Linked DNA regions of Homo sapiens: region 2 is linked to region 1. Evidence: fine-mapped expression QTL. A gene starts in region 1. The other region holds a variant in brackets. All regions are shown on one strand. Distances are from middle to middle.

Region 1 (12,098 bases):
TTTTTTTTTTTTTTTTTTTTTTTGTAGACAGAGTCTCACTCTGTCACCCAGGCTGGAGTGCAGTGGCATGATCCCGGCTCACCGCAACCTCCGCCTCCTGGGTTCAAGCAATTCTCCTGCCTTAGCCTCCTGAGTAGCTGGGATTACAGGTGTGCACCACCACGCCCGGCTAATTTTTGTATTTTCAGTAGAGACGGGGTTTCACCATGTCGGTCAGGCTGGTCTCGAACTACTGATCTCGTGATCTGCCTGCCTCGGGCTCCCAAAGTGCTGGGATTACAGGCGTGAGCCACCGTGCCCGGCCACAAGAAGGGAGTCTTTTCGGGAAAGGGCTATTATCAATTTTGTTTCGGAGTAAAATCACGAACTGAATTCCTTCCCAAAGTTAGTTCAGCCTACGCCCAGGCATGAACAAGGACAGCTTAAAGATTAGAAGCAAGATAGAGTCGGTTAGGTGTGATTTCTTTCACTGTCATAATTTCCTCAGTTATAACTTAGCAAAGGCAGTTTCAAGTATAGATGTCACAACCAGGACTGGATTCTAAAAGACTGACTCTGCCTTTTTTTTTTTTTTTTTTTTTGAGACAGAGTCTCACTCTGTCACCCAGGCTGTAGTGCAGTGGCGTGATCTCTACTCACTGTAGCCTCCACCTCCCAGGTTCAAGGGATTCTCCTGCCTCAGCCTCCTGAGTAGCTGGGACTACAGGCGTGTGCCACCACACCTGGCTAATTTTTGTATTTTTAGTAGAGATGGGGTTTCACCAGGTCGGCCAGGCTGGTCTTGAACTCATGACCTCGTGTGATCCGCCCACCTAGGCCTCCCAAAGTGCTAGGATTACAAGTGTGAGCCACTACACCCAACCAAGCCCATATATATATATATATATATATATATATATATGTTTTTTTTTTTTTTTTTTCGAGGTGGAGTCTCCCTCCATTGCCCAGGCTGGAGTGCAGTGGTGTGATTTCTGCTCACTGCAACCTCTGCCTCCTGGGTTCAAGCGATTCTCGTGCCTCAACCTCCCAAGTAGCCGGGACTACAGGTGCACGCCACCAAACCCAGCTAATTTTTGTAATTTTAGTAGAGACAGGATTTCACCATGTTGGCCAGGCTGGTCTCAAACTCCTGACCTGAAGTGATTCACCTGCCTCAGCCTCCCAAAGTGCTGGGATTACAGGCATGAGCCACTGGGCCCAGCCCCAAGGCCCTATTTTTAAGGTTACTTTTTATCTATGGCAAATGATACTATGTTCCACTTGTGGAATGATATAAAATTCCTTTTTAAAAATAAATGTTTTTTTAAGTTAAAAAGTGAGTTGAAGGAAAAATATAAGTAAATAATACTATGGTGTGTTGGTAAAGCATTTCCTTCAGAAAAAAAAAAAAAGTCATGATTTGTAGTGTGTGCTGATTTCTATGGTGTAAGTTCTTCCACCATGCCTATTTCTAGTAATCCAGGTGATGGCACTGTACCCAGAGCTGGGAAAAAATGGGCAGAAGGAGCAAGCTCCAAGTCTGCACAAGTGACTCCAGCTCACCACTGGGTGGGGCTCAGATATAGCAAAAATCAGGAAGGTGGTATGGCAACAACTGACGCTTGAGAAATGCCTCTTGAGTCACCTTTGATTAGAATCGTATTTTCCATAGCAGAGCACAACTGCCTTGAGTTCTTGCTAATTTGACTACTTCTTGCTAATTTTCGTAAACCTGCAGTACCTGGCAGGGTAAGAGGGGTGGGCACCTCTCAACAGGCTGAACCTTCTGGAAGAGGTACTGGGGGAACTACTCTTCTGCCTTAGGATGGCAGTGACTTGGAGTTACCTCTAGTTCCTGGCTGTCGGTAGCTCAGCTCCAGGGAGAGGTGCGGCCCCAGGTGGAGGACAGAGTGAGAAACAGGATGATGTGTCGGGGCAGGGTCTGACTCACACCTGTGGAAGGAAGGACCTTCTCGGTTCGTTTTTATTTAAATGTTCCTTCCTCCCTTCCTCCCTCCCTCCCTCCCTTCCTTTTTTTTTTTTTTTTTTTGGGGACGGAGTTTTGCTCTTGTCACCCAGGCTGGAGTGCAATGGCCCAATTTTGGCTCACTGCAGCCTTTGCCTCCCGGGTTCAAGCAATTCCCCTGCCTCAGCCTCCCAAGTAGCTGGAATTACAGGTGCCTGCCACCGCGCCCGGCTAATTTTTGTATTTTTAGTAGAGACAGGGTTTCACCATATTGGCCAGGCTGGTCTCAAACTCCTGACCTCAGGTGATCTGCCCACCTCGGCCTCCCAAAGTGCTGGGATTACAGGCGTCAGCCACTGTGCCCGGCCTCTTCTCTTTTCTTTTCTTTTCTTTTCTTTTCTGTCTTTCTCTCTCTCTCTCCTTCCCTTCCTCCCTCCCTTACCTCTCTACTTTCTTGCTTTTTTTTTTTTTTTTTTTGAGATGGAGTTTCACTCTTGTTGCCCAGGCTGGAGTGCAATGGCACAGTCTCGGCTTACTGCAACCTCTGCCTCCTGGGTTAAAGCAATTCTCCTGCCTCAGCCTCCCTAGTAGCTGGGATTACAGGCACCCACCACCACACCCAGCTAATTTTTTCTATTTTTAGTAGAGATGGGGTTTCACTATGTTGGCCAGGCTGGCCTTGAACTCCTGACCTCAGGTGTTCCACCCGCCTCAGCCTCCCAAAGTGCTGGGATTACAGGCATGAGCCACCGCACCTGGCAAAGATGATTTTCTTTCAAGAAGTGTGAGATAAGGGCCAATATGAGGAGAATAGAATGGAAAAGGAGAAATTTACAGTTTTATATTGTATTACAGCTACTGCAACAAAGTGCCGCAGGCCAGGTATCTTACCAACAGAAATTCATTGTCTCACAGTTCTGGAGTCTAGAAATCTGAAATCAAGGTATTCGTTGGGTCCTTCTGAGAGCTGTGAGGGAAGGACCTGTACCAAGCCTTTCTCTTTAGCTTGTAGATGGCCATCTTCTCCCAGTGTCTCTTCACATGATCTTCCCTCTATGCATGTCTGCCTGTCTACCAATAACCACTTCTTATAAGGACACCAATCATATTGGATTAGGACCCACCCTAATGACTTCAATTTTAACTTGATTCCTTCTGTAAAGACGCTACCTCCAAGTGAGGCCACATTCTGAGGTACTAGGGGTTAGGACTACAACATATCTTTTTTTTTTTCTGGTGGATGTGGGGTGGGCGCACAAATTAACTAATTAGCAGGCCTAGAAGTTCTTTGATGAGAAGTAGACTCTATCAGGGTCTTCAGTCACAGGAGTTGAGATGCTGACTCTGTCAATGGGATACTGTCCCTTTTACAAGTGCCCTGAGAATTTATCCTGCCCAGTGGGGGTCAGACCCTTCAGGGAATAACCACAGAACAATTTTGTCTTAGCACAAGACTCTTCCTATCTGCAAGTAATTTGCAAGGATTTCAAACATCTCCGGAGGCTGTAGCCAAGCCCTGGCAAACATCCGAGTCTGTTCAGGGTGTACAGCTTCTGACTCAGGTGGCCAGGCTTGGACCACCTTGCTAAGGGGTCCAGGCCTCTAAAGATGCTCTGGATCTCCTCGGAGGAGACTATTTGTTTGGGGCCAGTTGAGCTTCTTCACCGAGAAGCCTCAGGGCCTTCCCTTGCACAGCCCTACCTCGCTGATTCCCTCACTGGCTGTTCTGAAACTGAAAATGGCCACGAACGGTGTGAGGCTTGTAGACCCTAACAGTGAGGGATAATATTTTGCCAATTGACTGCATTGAATGGAGTCAGTAAACATAGTGACTGAAAATCTTACCACTGTTGATAAGTATTTTCTGAGTACCCAATAGGTATTGTGAGAATACTTTTTTTTTTTTTGAGACCTGGTCTTCCTCCTGGGCTCTAGGGCTCAAGCTATCCTCCCACCTCGGCCTCCTGAGTAGCTGGGACTACAGGCCCAAGCCACCATGCCCGGCTACTTTTTGTATTTTTTGTAGAGATGGGGTTTCACCGTGTTGCCAGGCTGCTCTCGAACTCGTGAGCTCAAGTGATCCTCCCGCCTCAGCCTCCCAAAGTGCTGGGATTACAGGCGTGAGCCACAGAGCCCAGCCCAAGAATACTTATGGAGTCCTGTGACAGATTACAAAATTAGCCCCAACTCTCTGCTCATCCCTGTACTCATATTCTTTGCAATGTGACTTCGCTGCTTCTCCCATCAGGAGATGGAGTCTATTTCTTCACCCTCGAACCTGGGTTGGCCTTGCCATTTGGTTTAGTCGATACAACTGTGGAAGTGGACTAGTGCCGATTTTGAGCCTAGACTTTGAGAGACCTTGCACCATTCCACTCGTGCTCTCGGAGCCCTGCAGCTCCATGTGAACAAATTAGGCTAGCCTGTTAGTAGATGAGAGACATGCGACCTACTTGCCTCAGTTGGCAGCTAGCCACTTCCCAGAAGCAGAGCCTTCTGACTGCCTGGCGATGAACCCGGATGCATGAGGGAGTCCAGCTGAGACCAGAAGAACTGCCCAGCTAAGCCCAGCCTCAAATACTGACCCATAAAATCATGAACTAAATAAGTAGTTATTGTTTTAAGCCACAACTAAGTTTTGGGGTGTTTTATTATGCAGGAAACACTGATGGATACAAGCACTGAACATGCGTCAAGCTCTGGTATTTGCAATCAGGCAGACTCTCGGGAGTAAAGACTTGTGCAGAGATGATAGAATAATGGGTATAATGCACTAAGTGCTCTGGAGAAGCAAAAACAGTAGGAATAGAAGAGGTGGATTTGAGCTAGGGAGGGATCTTGTCTCTGTGGAGTTAGAGGGTCCAGGATGAACTGCCTGGGACAGGGGACTGTCTGAGGGAAAGTATGAATGTTGGAAACCCCAGGCTGGGGCCATCAGCCAGCAGTATATACTGAGCCCTTACCATGGGTACAGAAACACTGTACTGGCTGTCTCAAGTCTGCGTATGGACTAGCAGAGGAGAGAAGACATCCACGTGTAAAAGTTGGGTAGAAGTGTCATGCTGGTTTTCAGTGAAAACAGAAGTAGCTATGCCTGCTTTGTCCACAGTGGCAAGCAGCATCTCGGCTTGGGCAGAATGGGACTCTACCCATTAGTTATTTATATCTGGTACTTGCTATATATCTGGCAGGGATGTGGTGTTGATGGGTTGAGAGAGATCTCCATAGTTTTCCCTGGGAAGGCACAAGGGGTCAGAAAACATGGCTGCTTAAGTATCCACTTGACTGGTAACCCCTTGAGGGCAGGGTCTGTGTCTGATTCATGTCAGTATACCCCAAGACACAAGGCTTTGCATATACTAAGCAATCAGTTTCAAAAGACTTACTTTGGAGATATTTATCATCCTCTTCTCTTTATTCCTACTAACCTATTGTAGTTTTTTCCTAGGGCTGCTATAACAAATGGACATAAACTGGGTGGCAACAGAAATTTATTCACTTACAGCTCTGGAAGCTATTAAGTCCAAAATCAAGGTGTCTGGAGGGTTAGTTCCTTTTTGGAGGCTCTGAAGGAGGAATTATTCCCTGCCCGTTCCTAGCTTCTGGTCCCTGCTGGCAGTGCTTGGCACTCCTGGCCTTGGAAATGCATCAGCTGATCCCTGCCGCCATCACCACAGGTGGTTCTCCCTGTGCGTCTCTTCTGTGTCTCTTCTCTTACAACGACACCAGTCTCAGTGGATTAGGGGCCCGCCCTACTCCAGCATGACCTTAACTCATTACATCTGCAACGGCCCTACTTCCAAATAAGATCACATTCTGATGAACTTTAACATATTGTTGGGGGTGGAGAGGGCATAAGTAACCCTTAACATCCATCGAGGCCCAAGGGAATGTGTGTTCTTTGACTGCCTAGACCCCCTAGAGGCGGAATTAAATATTCTTTTTTTTTTCTTTGAGACAGAGTCTCACTCTGTCCACTCAGGTTGGAGTGCCCATCTCGGCTCACTGCAACCTCCGCCTCCCGGGTTCAAGCGATTCTCCTGCCTCAGCATCCCGAGTAGCTGCGGCTACAGGCGCCTGCCACCACGCCCGGCTAATTTTTGTATTTTTAGTAGAGACGGGGGTTTTGCCATGTTGGCCAGGCTGGTCTCGAACTCCCGACCTCAGGTGATCCGTCTACCTCGGCCTCCCAAAGTGCTGGGATTACAGGCGTGAGTCGCCGCGCCCCGCCCTCAAGTCATATTTTATAGATGAGAACATTAGGATTGGAGACGCAGGGCCGAGACACAGGGCCTTGCATATACTAAAAACCTCAATGGGCACCCGAAGTCATCATAGGAAAATTTCCCTATGCTCCATGTTCACGTGTTTCAAAGTATCCCTGATCTGGCTAATTCAACTCCATTCCCTCGAGAAAACCCAATCTGGAGCCCCGGTCCTAGAGATCCTGGGATGTACTGCGCGTCCCACTCTGTATCTCCGCCCCCTCAGGCGTTCTCCCTCTAGAAGCAGCACACAAAGCGGTTACTCCCTGCGGCCGGGAGCGCGCGGGCTGCCCTTCCGCGCGCCACCCCCGCGCGCGCCGCTCCCCCACTGATTGGCTGAGCGCATCCCGAGCCCAGCCTGCTCCCGCCGCGGCGCCGGTCCTGGCGCCGGGATTGGCGGAGTGGCCGCGCGCGCAGATCCCGCAGCCCCGCGCGCCCCGCCCCGCCGGCTCGGAACTCGCCTGGGGCGCCGCCGGCGGCGGAGGGAGCGTGACTGCGCTGCGCAGGGCGCTAGGAGGCATTGTCGCCGTAAGTGGAGCCAAAAGCGGCCCGGAGCGGGACCACACGCTTCTTGCCCCGCAAAGTAAATGTAGTCCGAGGTCAAGCGTTGCAGGGGCTGGGGGAGAGAGGGCGAGAAGTGTTCCGATTTTTGCAGCGTCCCCTCCCCTCCCCCAGGTCACCCGGTGGAAAAGAGCAGCGGTGCACCAGCGGAGGCTCTGGCGGTGCCAAGGGGCTCGGCATGCGCGGGCTCTTGCTTGCTCACTGCACCTGGACCCCGATGGTTCAGGGGAGTGGGTGCAGAGGTGCCAGGGAATAGGGAGCTCGGAGAACCGCTCCCAGGCGGGCCTCCATTCCTCGCGGGAGGCGCCCTTGCTTGGAGAGGCTGCTGTGCATTTCGTCCCCGAAGCGACACTTTCGGGGTTTGCTTCCGCTCTGGGGAGCTGCAGACGCCTGCTCCAGAGCGTGCCTCTCGGCCTCCGGGCAGCGTGGGAGCCCCGGGGCCTCTGCGATCACTACCATTCTTCCCTCTGCCAGCTTTATTCTCCCAGTCCCCGCCTGCCGGGCCAGCGGACGAGGTGCCATTGGCTGCAGGCACCGGGGGTGAGGCGGATCCTGGCACGCGGGGCTGGGGGACCCTTGCCTGGCTACCGCGCGTAGTGCTGGAGGCTCAGTCCGAGGATGCCTAGATGTTAGCGAGGGAGCACGCGCTGAGCTTCCCGAACCCCATGCCACAAAAACAAGGCGCCAGCAGGTCCCGCTCACGTCCCAGCGGGCTTCTTTCCCTGGGGTGGGGAAGTGGGTCAACTTCGTTCTGATCTGAAGGGGGGTTTGGGACTATTTGGGTCGCTCCTCACCTCCCCACCCGCTCCCCGGCTTGGCATGGTCCAGAGCCCGGGCTGGAGCCAGCGGTAGGGCCAGCTTGCACACATGGCTCCGGAGGCTCCGGTTGCCCATCCGAGCCCCTGCCAGGCTCTAACGTTCCCAACTGACAACACCAGTAACTAAATATAGGAGCAGATGGTGGGGACGGGCTGTCGCAGCGGCTCCTTTGCAGAGGTCTCCGGACTGCAGATAAGGTAGAGTTATTGATGGTAAGGGCTGGAGTCAGGGGGCCAGGTCAGGGTTTAAGCAAAAATCACCCCTCCCCCAGCCAGCCTGAGTCCAGGTGAAACCAGGTTATAGGGACAGGAGGGCTGTATTGCCAGCTCCCCCAAAGCAGGACAACGTTTTTGTCTGGCATTGAATTTATTACATCCAAACTTCCTCTCTACACCTGTTTGATTACCTACTGGTAATGCCTTGGTGTGGGAAACATGTAATGGTTCGCAAAGTCCTTTCCCAAAAGTTACATATCAGTTACTTCCCACAATAATCCGGTGAGGAAGGTGGTATTTCCATTTTACAAATGGGACTGCTCACAACACTGTTAACTTTGCAAAACTATGGATTAGGCTGCCTTCCTCAAAAAACTTCTCTTAGTTCGCTACACAGAAGCAGAGGACAGCCTTGTAAGAGGGCTGCAGTTCCCTTCCTCAGTAATCTGGGAGCCCATTGGCTCCCTGTCTCTCTCTCTCCTGAATCTCTTTGTGCACCTGCTGCTCACCCCTGTCCCTTCCCCCTGGCCATGCCATGTGCCTTCATGCCCCCCTAGGCCTGGCCCTGTAGCCTTACTACTATCAGGCTCATCCTGCCTCCCAGTGGGAAGCTTGTTCTAGCCCATACCCAGTCTCTGCCCCTTTACTCCCACAGTGGGGGCCTTATGGAAGGTGTCCAGGAGACGTTTGCTGGATTTAAACATTTCACCGGACCAGGATGCTCACTCTGAGGAATGGGGTTGAGGGTGTGTGGAGAGGGCCATGCTTTGAGGATGTAGGCAGTGTGAGTATGAGCTTCGACCCTGTGCTGAAGTGTCTCTGGGATTTGGAGTGCTTTCCCTGACATTTTCTAAGGCCTACCCTCTATTGCCTGGGACTGGCTGGGGCCAGTAGTGCCAGCTGGCTGGGGTGCCCCAAGCGGCGATCTGGCCCATGTGGGCTGATGGTGTCTGTTTCTGCCTTTTGGAACACTCTGTGACTCTCCACTACCACCATCCCTGCAGATGGCATTGACCAGGTACCCTGAGGAGCTCAGGCCTGTCAGCTGGACTTCATGAAACAATTCTTCCTTGTGGAGAAAGGGGCAGTTTTAGGTGAAGGGAGGATGGCTTCCTAGCTAGTTAATAAGCGTGGTGATTTTAAGCAGCGGGAACCTTTTGGGGGTCCCGAGCACATTTTTGCTGTACTCAGAGCATCCTCCATCCTCTGGCATAGAAGGAAGGGGCCCTTCTTCCTACTGAATTGCCCTGACACCTAGACTTTACATGTTGTTTCTGTTCCTGTACCTGTGTACACTCTGACCCACACAATAGGACGTCTGAACTTGCCACCAGTGGTGAAATTTTTAATCTGACTAGTTTTCATCAGTGGTCTAAGGCAAGGGTCCTCAACCCCTGGGCTGTGGATGGCATAGGTCCGTGGCTTGTGAGGAACCCGGCTGCACAGCAGGAGGTGAGCACCAGTAAGCATTACCGCCTGAACTCTGCGTCCTGTCAGACCAGCGGCCGCATTAGATTCTCCTAGGAGCCTGAACCCTATTGCGAACTGCGAATGCGATGGATCTAGGTTGTGTGCTCCTTATGGAGAATCTAATGCCTGATGATGTGAGGTGGAATAGTTTCATTCCTCTCCCACTACAGTGGGAAAAATTGTCTTCCAGGAAACCGAAAAGGATGGGGACCGCTGGTCTAAGGCACCACCTCCCCATCTGGTGGTAGCTAGTAGAATTGCAGGCATAGTGCCTGATTGAAAATATTCAGCCCAGGTGATCCCACCAGGCCTACCCCCTACCCTGGGCAGCTTGGTGGCTTCCCTTCCTTTCCCTCTCTGCTGTGAGGCCAGGATTGCTTCAGTGCTGTTCTTCAGAAAGCTCTTCCTCATCAGAATCGCAAGTCGGAGCTGCTTCCTGCATTTCTTTCTCCCTCTTCCTTCTTATCCCTCATACCTAGGAGATGCTCAGTAAATGTTTATGATTATTGATGATGAATTGGAGATGGAGAAAGGAGGGAGCATGGAATGGTGGGAAGAGTCCTAGGCTTGGACTTAGGATACCTGGGTTTTTTGTTTTCATCTAGCTGATTTGCCTCCCCTCTTGGGTCCTCAGCTTTCCCATTCATAAAGTGGTTAGAACAAGTCACCAAGATGCTAGCAACATGGCTATGATTTAGGCTTAGGGGTACGGTCTTCGAGGCAGCATGGTGAAGTTGTTGGGTCCAGTTTGCCACAGTCCTTTCTATTCCCTTCTGCCCTGCACTGGCTCGCCTTATGCAGATTGGCCACCTGGCACTATTAGGCATTTGGTTTTTGACCCTTCTCAATTTAGACAGTGTCTTAGATTTGTTGTAAGAGTCTCTTGACCTGTATTCAGATTGGAAACACAAATGATGTCTGTTGATCTTCACCATTAGGGGATACTAACTAAGCACCTGTGTTCAGTGTGTGGAGAGAAGCACAGTATAGGTCTATTCCCTGGCCCCAAGCTGCCCACAGGTCAATGGGGGAGACAAGTGTTGGTTTGTTGATTTATTTATTTTTGAGACAGAGCTTTGCTCTTGTCACCCAGGCTGGAGTGCAATGGGACGATCTCGGCTCACTGCAACCTCCGCCTCCTGGGTTCAAGCGATTCTCCTGCCTCAGCCTCCTGAGTAGCTGGGATTACAGGCATGTGCGACCATGCCTGGCTAATTTTTTTTTTTTTTTTTTTTTTTGAGCGCGAGGTTCACTCTTTGTTGCCCAGGCTGGAGTGCAATGACACAATCTCGGCTCACTGCAACCTCTGCCTCCTGGGTTCAAGTGATTCTCCTGCCTCAGCTTCCCGAGGCGCCCGCCACCACGCCCAGCTAATTTTTGTATTTTTAGTAGAGATGGAGTTTTACCACGTTGGCCAGGCTGGTCTTGCATTCCTGACCTTAGGTGATCTGCCCACCTCGGCCTTCCAAAGTGCTGGGATTACAGGTGTGAGCCACCATGCCCGACCATTTTTTTTTTTTTTTGTATTTTTAGTAGAGACGGAGTTTTACCATGTTGGTCAGGCTGGTTTCCAACTCCCGACCTCAAGTGATCCACCCGCCTAGGCCTCCTAAAGTGCTGGGATTACAGGCATGAGTCACTGCGCCCGGCTGACAAGTGTATATTTAAAAGCTCATAAATAATCCAGGTGACTTGTGCTAAGTCATTAAGTGCTACTGAAACTCAGAGGAAGGAGAGAACACTGAGGCAATAAGAGGAGATTTCCTGGAGGTGGACAGATAGAAATTCCACTCATTCCTCAAAGATGAGTTCCCTCAGTGTTTTGTTCAGACTCACATGAGTATTAAACTGGGGTTATATGCTGCTGTTACATCCACATATGCACTGCTTTATCCTCTTAACTTTTATTGAGTATTTACGTGTCCTGGGCTCTGAGCTAGACAGGTGTATACATTTTGTGCTCTCAATCCTCATATTAACCTAGCAAGTTGGGTATTACTAGATCTCCTATTCACATGAAGAAGAAACAGGCTCAGAGGAGTTAAGAAACTCTCCCAAGGCCTCTCAGCCAATAAATGGGGGTGTTGAGCATTTGACCTGTCTCCAAAATCAGTGTTTTCCCACTGTTCTGTATGTGTGTGTCTCAAACCTTTAGTGTCAGCCTCTTTAGTGGAAATGCACACACATACTAAACTCACAGTAACTCCCTGAAGCAGATGGGTGGGCTTGGCCAGCCCTGGCTTGGCCTTGCCTGCCCTGCTTGTCCAGTTGACCACGTGGGAACTTTTTCTTGGTGACTGTTAGCTCTTAGCACTGTCCCCATGCCCCTTCTCTCTGCCCTTCGCCTTCTTCTGCCTTTGGCCCTTGGAGTGAGTTCACTGGAGCTTCTTGAGCTGTCTGTGAAGCTGGGACTGGGGTCTGGGGGCAAAGAAGGGGTGCTGACCTTGGACTTGAGCTCATTCCTCTCTCTATGGGGTGCTGCTATTTTTATAAAAAAGTGAGCACTGGCTATGGAGCTGGGCTGACCCTATTCTTGCCGCTTACTCACTTTGACCTTGGCCAGGTCACCTAGCCCCTCTCTGTGCTCATTTCCTTCTCTGTAATAAACAGGGAGTTGAGGGTGTTTGCAAGTCCTTATGTCTTAACACCTTATCATTTTGTTTTCCTCACCTTTCTTTCAGTCTCTTTTCCTCTAGTGATCCAATTTCTCTTCTCTCATTTCCATCTCCACCCCCCGGCCCCTGCCCGCTTTTCTTGCAGATAAACTCAGCATCAGGCTGATAATCAGGTCTGCAGGCTAGTACTGTAACCTCTCCTTCCTGT
Region 2 (12,098 bases), 81 kb after region 1:
CCAGAGTCTAAGGGTAGGCAAGCTCCTCCCGTTAGGGAACCTGGCTGCCAGTTTACGGGGCCCGGGGACTCCTGCATAGCGCTTCTCTGTGGTCAAGAGTCTTCTCCGTCTCGGTGTCAGCCTTGCTACCCACTGGCTGGGTGACCCCAGGCAAAATTACTTCCTCCCACTGAGCCTGGGTTTTCGCAACTTTCAGGACCCTCCTACCTCCTGTGGTCTCTCTGCCATGATCTGTACAGCTTCTTGTCAATGGCCTATGAATATCAGTATGTCCAGGAACTTTCTTGTTGGTGCTCTCAGCGGAGGCCAAATCTGGGGCTTTGGCCTTCTATGAGTGGTGGTGAGGGGCTCCGGGAGCCATAGTGCTTTTAGGAGACATCTGAGGCTCAACCCTTGTTCCTTTCTATGTGAGCCGACATCTGGGTTATCTGGGTGGTGAACTCAGGCTGAGACTCTGCTGGCCAAACTCTGTGGGCTTATCCCCAGGCATCTGGGCTGCTGCTCAGCGGATGCAGGCCCCAGACCAGTGACAGGGAGCAGGGAACCTGCACTAGCTGGACACATGTTGCTGGAGCACTGTGCTGTTGTACTGCATGCAGGCATCTTGTCGACTTCTGGGACCTCCCTGCAAGGTGAGCAGTATGACTCCATTTTACAGATGAGAAAGCTCAGGTGCAGGGATCCTGCCTGAGGCACCACAGTCACTGGAAAGCCGGGCGTATCCTTCTGACTCCAGAGCTTGTTTATCTTAATAACCACTACCCACCCACTCTCAACTATCATGTGAAGCGAAGGATCTGGGGGCCTTTGCCTAAATAAGGTGGTGGTGTTTTCTAAGCTCCAGGCTTCAGCAGTGTCATGGACAAGAAGGGATAGATTTGTTCTATGCTGTGACCCACAGCAGAACAAGGAGGCCTGGAAGATTCTAGAAGCAATTTGAGAACATCTCCAGGAAGCTCTTTCTCTCAGGACGGGTCAGCAGCCTCTTTGAAAGCCTTTGTTGGGGGTGCAGGATAGGAAGCTCCTGGGAGATTCAACAGGAATTCTAGAGAGCAGTTAGTGGAGGTATATACACATATTCATTGACAGAGCAATCAGTCTTGCTCCTGGGCATATATCCAAAGACTTTCCCACATTGGCTCCTAAGGACAGATAGAGGCCACTTGGGTGTCATTGCTGGCAGAGTAGAGAGGTACAGTGTGGTGGGTGCACAGCATGGTATACTAAGCAGCAGTCAAAAGCAGATGGATTCGATGTACACAGTCCTCGTGGATGGAATGTAAAACACGGCTTAGTCAGTCACACTTACTATTGGGCACTAATACTCTTCCCCATTGAAAGGAACCAGGACTTCTTGGAGAAGTGGCTGATTCCAGGGCTGGGAACAGGGAAGGCTCAAGACGTGTCTTCCTAGAAATTCAGGCAGTGCATCCAAAAAGTGCTGGAGCCATGTCAAAAGATACAGGAGCCAGGCCAAAGGGGCTCCCAGTGGTCAAATCTGGACAATTTGAGCATCAGAATAATGAAGTCCAATAATGAATTGTAAATCACTAGAAACATAGGAGTCTATATTGATAATAGATACATGGAAGAGAAGTAGAATACTGAGGACTGTTGACATTAGGAAATCATTTTGCAGCCATCATAAAGATCAGGTCAGGTAAGAATCTTTAGTGGATGCTAAGTCTAAGGGTGATGAATGCTAAATGTTGGTGAGAACCAACATTTAGGATATTTGCACGCTCTTAAGATGTGTCCCCACAGACTTCTTGTTAGATGCAAGGGAGAAAAAAAACACACAATAGTAATTATATAGTGGAGAAAGCAAGTTACACATTGATCAAGTGATCAAAAGTAACAATAGAAATGAATTTGGTGTGCCTCTGATGTGATACCCCAGGAAGGACATGCACCTGTGCAGTCTTCAGCTGAGGATGCGAAGTCTCGGTTGAATCGTGAAGAAACACCAGACAAACACAAAATGAGGAACTTTTAAAAAGGGAAGGGGGCAGTGCACTACTCCTCCAATATCAATGTCATAAAAGACAAAGGGGCCCAAAGAGTTAGAAGTAAATGCAATCCTTGATTCCAGACTGGCTCTGGTACTAGAGGGGGAAGTGCTGTACAGGATGTTAGGGCACCTGACCACACTGAACTGTGGGCCATGGGTTAGATACACATTCTATCAATGTGAATACCTGGAACCCTTAACTGCACTGTGGTTATGTAAGAGAATGTCCCAATTCCTAGGAAATATACACTGAGGGCCATGACGTATGTATGGTACACTCAAATGATTCAGAAAAAAAGCGTGTGTGTGTGTGGGGTGGGGGAGAGAGAGAGAGAGAGAGAGAGAGACAGAAAATGCATGCACAAATGATAGAGCAAATAGGATAAAATGATAACAATTGGCGAATCTAGGTCGGGCGCAGTGGCTCACGCCTTGGAATCCCAGCACTTTGGGAGGCAGAGGTGGGCAGATCACAAGGTCAGGAGATTGAGACCATCCTGGCTAACACGGTGAAATCCCGTCTCTACTAAAAATATAAAAAATTAGCCGGGCGTGGTGGCGGGCACCTGTAGTCCCAGCTACTTGGGAGGCTGAGGCAGGAGAATGGCGTGAACCCGGGAGGCGGAGCTTGCAGTGAGCCGAGATCACGCCACTGCACTCCAGCCTGGGTGACAGAGCGAGACTCCATCTCAAAAAAAAAAAAAAATTGGCAAATCTAGCTAATGGTCATCTGGTATTTTTGCTAGTTTTTATTTTTAGTTTTGCAACATTTTATACATTTGAAATTATTTCCAAAGGAAAAAAGGAGGGGGGAAGAGACTTAAGACAATAATATTCAACTTTTCTGAGTAAAAAAATTTAAGACTTCTGAAACTGAAAGTCCTAAAGACATTTGAATAAAAACGTGGCCCATGCTATGTGGTTCCATTTATATGAAGTTCAGGAATAGACTAAATTAATGATGAAGAAGATCAGAGGGTATAAACTGGAAAGGGGCACAAGGGAACCCTTTTGGGGGTTCTTGAAATGTTTTCTATTTTTATCTGGGTGGGGGTCTCATACATCTGGGTATACATCACATATATACCCAGAAGAATGGAAAGCAGGGTCTCGAAGAGATATTGGCGCACTCATGTTCTTAGCAGCATTGTTCATCATAGCCAAGCGATGGGAACAACCCAAGTGACCATGGACAGGTGAACCTCAAGGTTCATTCACGTTATGACATGGGTCTGAAGTTTCTTCCTTTTTATTATTTATTTATTTAGATAGAGTTTCGCTCTTGTTGCCCAGGCTGGAGTGCAGTGGTGTGATCTCGGCTCACTGCAACCTCCACCTCCCAGGTTCAAGAGATTCTCCTGCCTCAGCCTCCCAAGTAGCTGGGATTACAGGCATGTGCCACCACACCCGGCTAATTTTTTGTATTTAGTAGAGACAGGGTTTCACTGTGTTGGTCAGGCTGGTCTCGAACTCCTGACCTCAGGTGATCCACCTGCCTTCGCCTCCCAAAGTGCTGGGATTACCGGTGTGAGCCACCGTGGCTGGCATTTCTTCCTTTTTAAGGCTGAATAATCCTGCATTATCAATGCCACGTGCCATAATGTGGATGAGCCTTGAGGACATTATGCTCAGTGGCATAAGCCCGTCACAAAAAGGCAAATACTATATGAGTCCACTTATATGAGGTACCTAGAGTAGTCAAATTCATGGTGGTTGCCAGGTGCTGGGAGGAGGGAGGGATGGGGAGTTTTTGTTTAAATGGGTATAGAGTTTCAGTTTTGCAAGATCGAGTTCTGGAGATTGGTTGTAAAACAATGTGAATGTGTCCATGCTGCTGAACTGTACACCTAAAAATGGTTAGTATGGTAAATTTATTTGTATTTTACCACAATTAAAAATTAAAAATAATATTTAAAAAAGATTGTTATTGGTGCTTAGTAAAATATATATATATATATATATATATATATATATATATAAAGAAGTGGCCTGATATCTATATAGCACAGTACCATTTGCCTAAAGTAAAATATGTGTATAATATCCATTAGTGTGTTCTAAAATTAAACACAAAACAACCACAAAAACAAAAAGCCCCCAACCGTGGGCAATATTTTGTGCCTAGGAGAGGACAGGAGCTGGCTCTTGCCATCACTATCGGCCTGAGGTTGTGTCGGACTGCATGGGATGAGGTCTGGCCCCGTCCTGTGCTAGGGTGGGAGGTTTTCTGGGATCCGGCTGCTCACGGAATTGGATCGGGGAAGAGCGGATGCAGCCAGAGCCTCAGCTTGCACAGGGCACGCGTCGAGGGCAAGCGTCCTAGTGTTGTCTGAGTGATCCTAAAGGTTAGGTGGGAGGAACTATAACAGGTTACCAAGTGTTAGTATAGCTGCTGCCTTATTCTGGTCCTTTAAAAAAAAAACTGAGGCGAAATTCACATAACATAAAATTAACCACTTAAATTAACCACATAAAGTGTATAATTCATTGGCATTGAGGACATTCACAGTGTTGTGCAATCATCACCTCTATCTAATTCCAAAATACTTCTGTCACCCCAAAGGAGTCCCCATATCCTTTAAGCAGTTGCTCCCCAATTTAATTCTGTTTGAGGAAATATTAGTTATGTCCATTTTCAAGATTAGGAAAACAAGGTACGGGAAGTAATACAAATTTTTAGGTGGTAAAGCTGGGGCATCAGCTTAGGGCTGTCTTAAATTTCATGTCTATGACACTAGGCTGTGCTGCGTCTTCAGTTATAACTGAGAATATTGGACCTGGAATTAATTATAGATCACTACTATCTTTATATTTATTACACTGTGGCATTTTTGATGAGTGTTGGAAAATGCCCTAGTATCTTATGTAAGTTAGGTGGATGACAGCTTGAAACTTGATTTCCAAATTCTACACGTTAAATTTTGGAAACTAGAGCTGGGACAGGAGATATGTTTGTTTTGATTCCAGAGGACATTCCATCTCTAAGTGATGATCCAGCATAGTGATGATCCAATATAGTCTGGAACTTCCCAGATAGCTCTTATGGAGCAGTGATATAGGTAGGGCACATTATCAGGAGTCCTGATAAATTCAAACTGTAACTAACCTCCCTTAGATAGACCCAAGATAGTCATGTCTGCTTCTTTAGGGACTCTTTAGGGGTATGATGGAGCAGATGGCATGATAGAGTGGCATTCCCATAGTTAAGAAGAATTTCCATAGGCCACTGTATGCGACTTCCTCTCTCTTGGCAAAAATATTCTTTATGCACATAATAGTCTTTGTTTTTTAATAGTTTTATTGACACATACTATACAATTCACCCATTTAATATATGCAATTCGGTGGTTTTGGCATATTACATTATTTTTTAATTGTGATAAAATATATATAACAAAATGTGCCATTTTAACCTTTTTTTTTTCTTTTAAGAAATAGAGGGCCGGGCGCAGTGGCTCACGCCTGTAATCCCAGCACTTTGGGAGGCCGAGACGGGCGGATCACGAGGTCAGGAGATCGAGACCATCCTGGCTAACACGGTGAAACCCCGTCTCTACTAAAAATACAAAAAATTAGCTGGGCATGGTGGCGCGCGCCTGTAGTCCCAGCTACACGGGAGGCTGAGGCAGGAGAATGGCGTGAACCTGGGAGGCGGAGCTTGCAGTGAGTCGAGATCGCGCCACTGCACTCCAGCCTGGGCGACAGAGCGAAACTCCGTCTCAAAAAAAAAAAAAAAGAAATAGAGACTGGGGTCTCACTATGTTGCCCATCCTGACTTTGAACTCCTGGGCTCAAGAGATTCTCCTGCCTCAGCCTCCTGACTAGCTGAGACTATAGCCTGGCTGATTTTAACCATTTTTAAGCATACTGTAGCTCAGTGGCATTAATTACTTTCACCATGTTGCGCAACCATCACCGCTATCTATTTCCAAAATATTTTCATCACTCCAACAGAAACTGTAGCTATTAAGCAATAAATCCCTA[C/A]TTCCCCTTCTCCTAGCCCCTGGGAACCTCTGTTCTACTTTCTGTTTCTATGAATTCAACTACTCTATGTACCTCACATAAGTGGAGTCATACGGTATTTGTCTTTTTGTGCCTGCCTTCTTTCTTTAGCACAATATTTTCTCTTTTTTTTTTGAGACAGAGCTTTGCTTTGTCGCCCAGGCTGGAGTGCAGTGGTGCGATTTCCCCTCACTGCAACCTCCGCCTCGTGGGTTCAAGCAATTCTCTGCCACAGCCTCCCAAGTAGCTGGGATTACAAGCACCCACCACCATGCCCGGCTAATGTTTTTGTATTTTTAGTAGAGATGGGGTTTCACCAGCTTGGCCAGGCAGGTCTTGAAATCCTGACCTCGTGATCCACCCGCCTCACCCTCCCAAAGTGCTGGGATTACAGGCGTGAGCCACCACGACTGGCCTAGCACAATGTTTTCAAGGTTCATTCATGTTGTAACCTGTATCGGAATTGCGTTCCTTTAAAAGGCTACATAGTATTCCATATATCATATATATATGGACATATATATGGACAACATAGTATATATCATATTGTTTATCCATTCATCTATTGGTGGACATTTGACTATTATAAATAGTGCTGCTATGAACATTTGTGTAAAATTATTTGTTTGAATGCCTGTTTTTAATTCTTTCAGTTCTACCTAGGAGTAAAATTGCTGGGTTGTATGGCAATCCTACGTTTAACTTTTTGAAGCAGTTGATTCTTATTTTTAAGGATGCTTTCCTCCATGTGGTTGTTATATCCTGGTGGGCCCGATGGCCCTTTGCACAGGGCTGGGCACCAGGAGCTGAGCCCACGTGCAGTGGGCAATGGAGAGCTGCCCCTCACCATCAGGTGCTCAGAGTCCTCATGGCCCATTGTCCTTCTTTTCTGTCTGGTTGGCCTCCACCACTCTAACCTGTCCATTCTGTCCCCAATAGATGTGCCCGTGGAGAAGCTGGCCGCCATGCCAGCCTTGCGCAGCATCAACCTCCGCTTCAACCCACTCAACGCCGAGGTGCGCGTGATCGCCCCGCCGCTCATCAAGTTTGACATGCTCATGTCTCCGGAAGGCGCAAGAGCCCCCCTACCTTAGGCCACCCTCCTCATGCCCACCCAGCAAGGGGCAGAGGCCACAGGCCTGGAACCCTGGAAGGGAGGGAGGCCCATGGGAGGCCAAGCCTGGGGGCTGGGGGCGGGTGGGCCGAGCAGCACGTGGTGGGTGGGGTGCAGCTGGTCTGGATAGATAGCTTACAGCAGTAGTGGGCTCTGGAATGCCCAAGGGAAGAGGCAAGGTGGGGCCTGCAGCCTGGACTCGGCACTCACAGCTGCTGTGCAAACTCAGGCAGATCTCCTGCCCTCTCTGAGCCTTGTCACTTGAAAAAAACAGGACCCTTTCCCTCCTTTGGGCTCCCTGGAGGTTTTTAAGCAGTACGTGCCTCCAAGTTACCTCCAGATCAGCAGGCACAGGTGGGCATTGCCAGGTATTTTCTGAGCCCCTGCGGGTTTGAGGCCTTGTTTTTAGTGCTGAGAGCCAGTTGCTGCCCTGAGAAGAGAAGACAACCTCCATCTATTTATTGCTTCCTGAGAACTGACCTGGATGCGGCCCTCTGCAGGGCCCAGTCTTCAGTCCTGTGGTCCCTGGACTGGTGGGAACCTGAACTAGGAGTCCTGGGAGAGCTGTGGTGGGAATATGGGCTGGCACTGCTGCAGGGCAAGAACATTCATGTAGGAGCCCGAGGACCAGCAGGCTGGGAATGGGGAGCAAGTCACGTCAGCTCTGTCATTCCCCACAGTTAACAAATTGGCGGGGTGGGAAGTCCTGAGTGCTCCGTCCCTCTAGCATCACTCCTGAGCTGCGGGAGAGGTGGCCCAGAGAACAGCAGAGTCAGTTACACCTGCAGCTCTTGTCTAAAGTGATTAGATGGCCACCCTCACCACTGTCCAGTCCAGCAGCAGCCTGGCTGCCTTGTCATGGCCTCCTGGGGGCAGAAGGCGATGTGGACCACGGGATTTGTAGCCAGCCAGCTCCCAGGCCAACGCCCAAAGCCCTGATGACCTGGTTCTTCTGAGGCCCTCAACCTGGCATCTTAGGGTATGGTCAGGCAACAGGGTGACCAGCTGTCCTGGTTTCCCAGGACATGGAACTTTCAATGCTAAAACTGGGACAGTACCCAGCAAGTGGGGATGGTTGGTCCCCTACCAGGAGAGGGCCTGGGGCTCTTGCTTCCCGAGAACGCCTGTGGCTTGAAGAACCTTGACTGCTTGGTCCTCAGGTATCTACCTCCCACCTTCTCCTCATCTGTGGAGCAAGCCAACTCAGTGCCCCAGACCCCACCTGATCTGCATCTTTGTTTGCATCTCCAGAGACACCTGAGGCCCCAGAGCTTGAGGCAAAGCCAGGCCGTCCAAATCCTGTGTGCCGTGGACGAGTGGCCACTTTACTACTCCTAAGGCTAAGATGTTGAGAGCTCAGACCACTGCTCAGAGCAGTAATCCCTGCTCAGAATGCTCCCAGTTCCCTCGTCCCTGCCCAGGTCTCTTGTCTCTTGGGAAGGAACTGATAGGTCGGGCCATTGTTGGGCCATCACTGAGCGCTCAGTATCTCAAGAGACTCTGTTCATTCTGCTCGTATCCCAAGGCCTGGTTGGTCAAACTCTGGGCAAAGGGTTTTCAGGATGAGGAGGTCAAGACAGGATCTCCAGAGCTACCGAGTTCATCTGTGGGTGTTGGGGGCAAGTGGGGGCTGAAGTCCTGTGCAGGCTGCGCTGGCCCCACCTGCCTTGTGCCCTGGAGTGGGGTTTCTCCTTGTTGAAGAAGAGGCATCCTTCTCTGATGTGCACAAACACAATGTATGACCAGAGCCTTGCAACTCAAAGTGTGGTCTGTGGACCAGCAGCGGCAGTGACACCTGGGAGCTTGTTAGGAATGCAGAGTCTAGGCCTCACCCTATACCTCCCGACTCAGACCCTGCATTTTAGCAAGACCCCCAGCTGATTCCTATAAGCACTTTAGAGTTTGAGAAGCAAGGACCTAGGCTGGGGATGTCCTCCGAGCAGAGGGTGAAGTTTCTCTCAGTTCTCTCCCTGCCACTTCCAGGGATCTGAGCCTGTGCTCAGCCTCCTCCCTAACCCACCCTGGGAGACACTTGGCCTGTTAGATTGTTCCAGAGTCTGCATGGCACTCCTGAAGAAGGGAGTGTGACCTGCAGTCACCAGGAGATGAGGGTTAGGTGTGCCCAGCCCTCCAGACCCGGCCTTTCTGGTTAACCCCTGCATGCCAAGCTGCCTGCTGCCCCAGGTCCTCACCTCAGGCCTTTGAAGGGGCAGCTTCTGGAAGTTGTTTTCTCCTCTGCTTGGAGAGTTTGCCCTTGTCTGTCTTGGAAAGTGTGGGCAGCCACAGATGCCCCCAAATCAGAGCTCACAGTGAGTGAGCCCCTAAGCTTCAGTCTGCAATAAAGAATGCATTGGTTTCATCTGCCTGGTTGGTGTTTGATTCATTCTCACTGTACAGACCTCCTATAGCCTGGGCGTCAAACCAGCCCACATGCAAGAGGGGTGCCCTCTTGTTGAAAGCACGAGGTAAAGAAGGCTAGAACGGGATGAAACGTGGATTATTCACAGGTGGGCACAGGTGCAGCCAAGCAGAATTGGTGCGTGCCCCCCAGCTGCGTTACTGCAGGATGGCTAAACATCAGGGGGAGACTGTGTATCTGGGAAAGGATGAAGAGACCCACTATCTCCACATTTCTCTCTTACCAGTGCCAGAAATTATTCCCTTAGTAATTTGTTCCTCTGAGTCCATGGTTCTCAAAGAGGGATCTCTGGGCCAGCAGCATCCGCAGCACCAGGAAGTTAGTTAGAAATGCGAATAGTTGACTCCACCCTAGATGTGCAGAATCTGAAACTCGGGGATGGGGCCCAGCACTCTTAACAAGCACTCCATGTGGTTCCGATGCCTGCTGAAGTTAGAGAACTACTGCTCTGGGTTCAATGTTAAAGTCAGGTTTTGCTTTTCTTAAGTCTGAGAGGCCAGCTTAAGTTTGCCTTGAGTTTTAGTCCAGATGCTCCATTGTTTCTAATTATTATTATTATTATTACTATTTGAGACGGAGTTTCACTATTGTTGCCCAGGCTGGAGTGCAATGGCGTGATCTCGGCTCACTGCAACCTCTACCTCCCAGTTCAAGAGATTCTCTTGCCTCAGCCTCCCAAGTAGCTGGGATTATAGGCGCCCACCACCATGCCTGGCTAATTTTGTATTTTTAGTAGAAATGGAGTTTCGCTATGTTTGTCAGGCTGGTCTTGAACTCCTGACCTCAGGTGATTCACCTACCCCGGCCTCCCAAAGTGCTGGGATTACAGGCATGAGCCCACTCCCAGCCGATCCATTATTCCTTTTATTTTATTTTTTATTTTTGAGACGGAGTCTCACTCTGTTGCCCAGGCTGGAGTGCAGTGGCACGATCTCAGCTCACTGCAACCTCCACCTTCCAGGTTCAAGCAGTCCTCCTGCCTCAGTCCCCTAGTAGCTGGGATTACAGGCATGCGTCACCATGCATGGCTAATTTTTGTATTTTTAATAGAGACCGGGTTTCACCACGTTGACCAGGCTGGTCTTGAACTCCTGGCCTCAGGTGATCCACCCGCCTCGGCCTCCCAAAGTGCTGGGATTACAAGTGTGAGCCACTGCGCCTGGCCCAATTATTTTTATTTAACAAACACACATAGAGCTTAGTGGGTACCAGGCAGTGTCTTAGTGCATTATACCTATTAACTCATTTAATCCCTATAACAATCCTAGCTAGCTTTGTGATTTGGATAAATCTCTTTTCCTCTCCAGGCCCTGTTTCCTGTCTGTAAAACTAAGGGGCTAAACCAGGAGACCCCTAAGGGCATTTCCAGAACTCATATGGTCACTATTTCTCAGCTCCTGAAGGCCCTGTGATCACTTATAACTGCCCCCTGTGGATTAGCCTGGACTCAGGCCGCTGGCCTCCCCCACCCCAAAGGTCAGAGGTCAGAGAGAGGACTCCCACCTGCGTAGTTTTCTGTTGAAGGATGCCTCACCGAAAACATCACCAGATCCACCTGTTAATCAGGAGAAGCTGATTCTACTTTTCCTGCTCGAACTTGACAGTTTTCCTAGCGTGTCAGACTTGGGAAGACAGTCAGGAAGTGATGAGAGATTTCAGAGTTTGGTTTTAGGTGGGACTTTCAATGCAGAGAAGGAAGCCTCGATTAGGATTGGGTAAAGATCAGGACATAGTTTAGGATCGGTGGACACAGCAAAGGGGGATTTTGAGGCAAAGGGTTCAAAGAGTCTTGGTGCGTAAACTCTCTTTTGATGTGATTAAGAGTTGATCAGTTTGCTGTTGCTTTAAATGATTCCTTCAGAAAGCTCCTGGAACGAACAGTAAAGTTATTTACAACTTTTTCTTCCTGGGCAAGAGTTTCCAGGACTAGTACTGTTATGCTGGAAAAGATGGAGGAATAATGTGGACGGGAAGCTGTGTGGGGCTACAGGATTCTAATTGTAGTCTCACCCAAATACCATGTTGTACCCCAGAGCCCCGCTTTGGGTCTGTTCTTCACATGAGATGTGCCCGTCCCTTCACAGAAAGCCAGCCCTGGGAAGCAAGCAGCAGTTCCTGAGCGATAATTGGCACCTGCCCCAGAAGGCCTCGGCAGAGCCCTGAACCAGATGTGAAGGGCAGGAAGGGCGGGCCTGGGGGAAGAGCGTGACTCAGGCAACTGGGCAGGAAAACCTCTCCAGCCCATGAGCAGCCAGGCCGTGCTCTGACTGTGTCTCCAGGCCAGGCAGGCTCGATCCATGCCTGAGAAAAGGGACATAGCCGAGCTGCGTTAGGTCCAAGCAGGAGCACCCCTGGAGCTCCTAGTGTTTTATCAGCACCAGGCAGGCACTGGTATGTGGTTTGGGTTTTTTTGTTTTTTGTTTTTTTGTTTTTGACGCAGAGTCTCGCTCTGTCACCCAGGTTGGAGTGCAGTGGTGTGATCTTGGCTCACTGCAACCTCCACCTCCCAGGTTCAAGTGACTCTTCTGTCTCAGCCTCCCGAGTAGCTGGGA

The links. PIP is the estimated chance that this variant, and not a neighbour inherited with it, causes the effect.
Region 2: its variant is fine-mapped to the expression of LRRC20 in whole blood (INTERVAL, PIP above 0.99).

Annotation. Positions count from the first base shown.
Region 1 is chr10:70,377,189-70,389,286 of GRCh38, reverse strand. It overlaps LRRC20 (leucine rich repeat containing 20), which reads left to right and starts at 6,662. Exons shown (of 5, transcript NM_001278212.2): 1 at 6,662-6,738. RefSeq lists enhancers at 6,158-6,257, 6,788-6,987, 6,832-7,451 and a silencer at 6,388-6,757.
Region 2 is chr10:70,296,363-70,308,460 of GRCh38, reverse strand. LRRC20 (leucine rich repeat containing 20) reads left to right here. Exons shown (of 5, transcript NM_001278212.2): 5 at 6,953-9,486. The coding sequence ends at 7,107. Among named protein-coding and RNA genes, the nearest start is that of NPFFR1, 18 kb to the right of the region's middle. The variant C/A (reference allele first, on the strand shown) is at 5,996.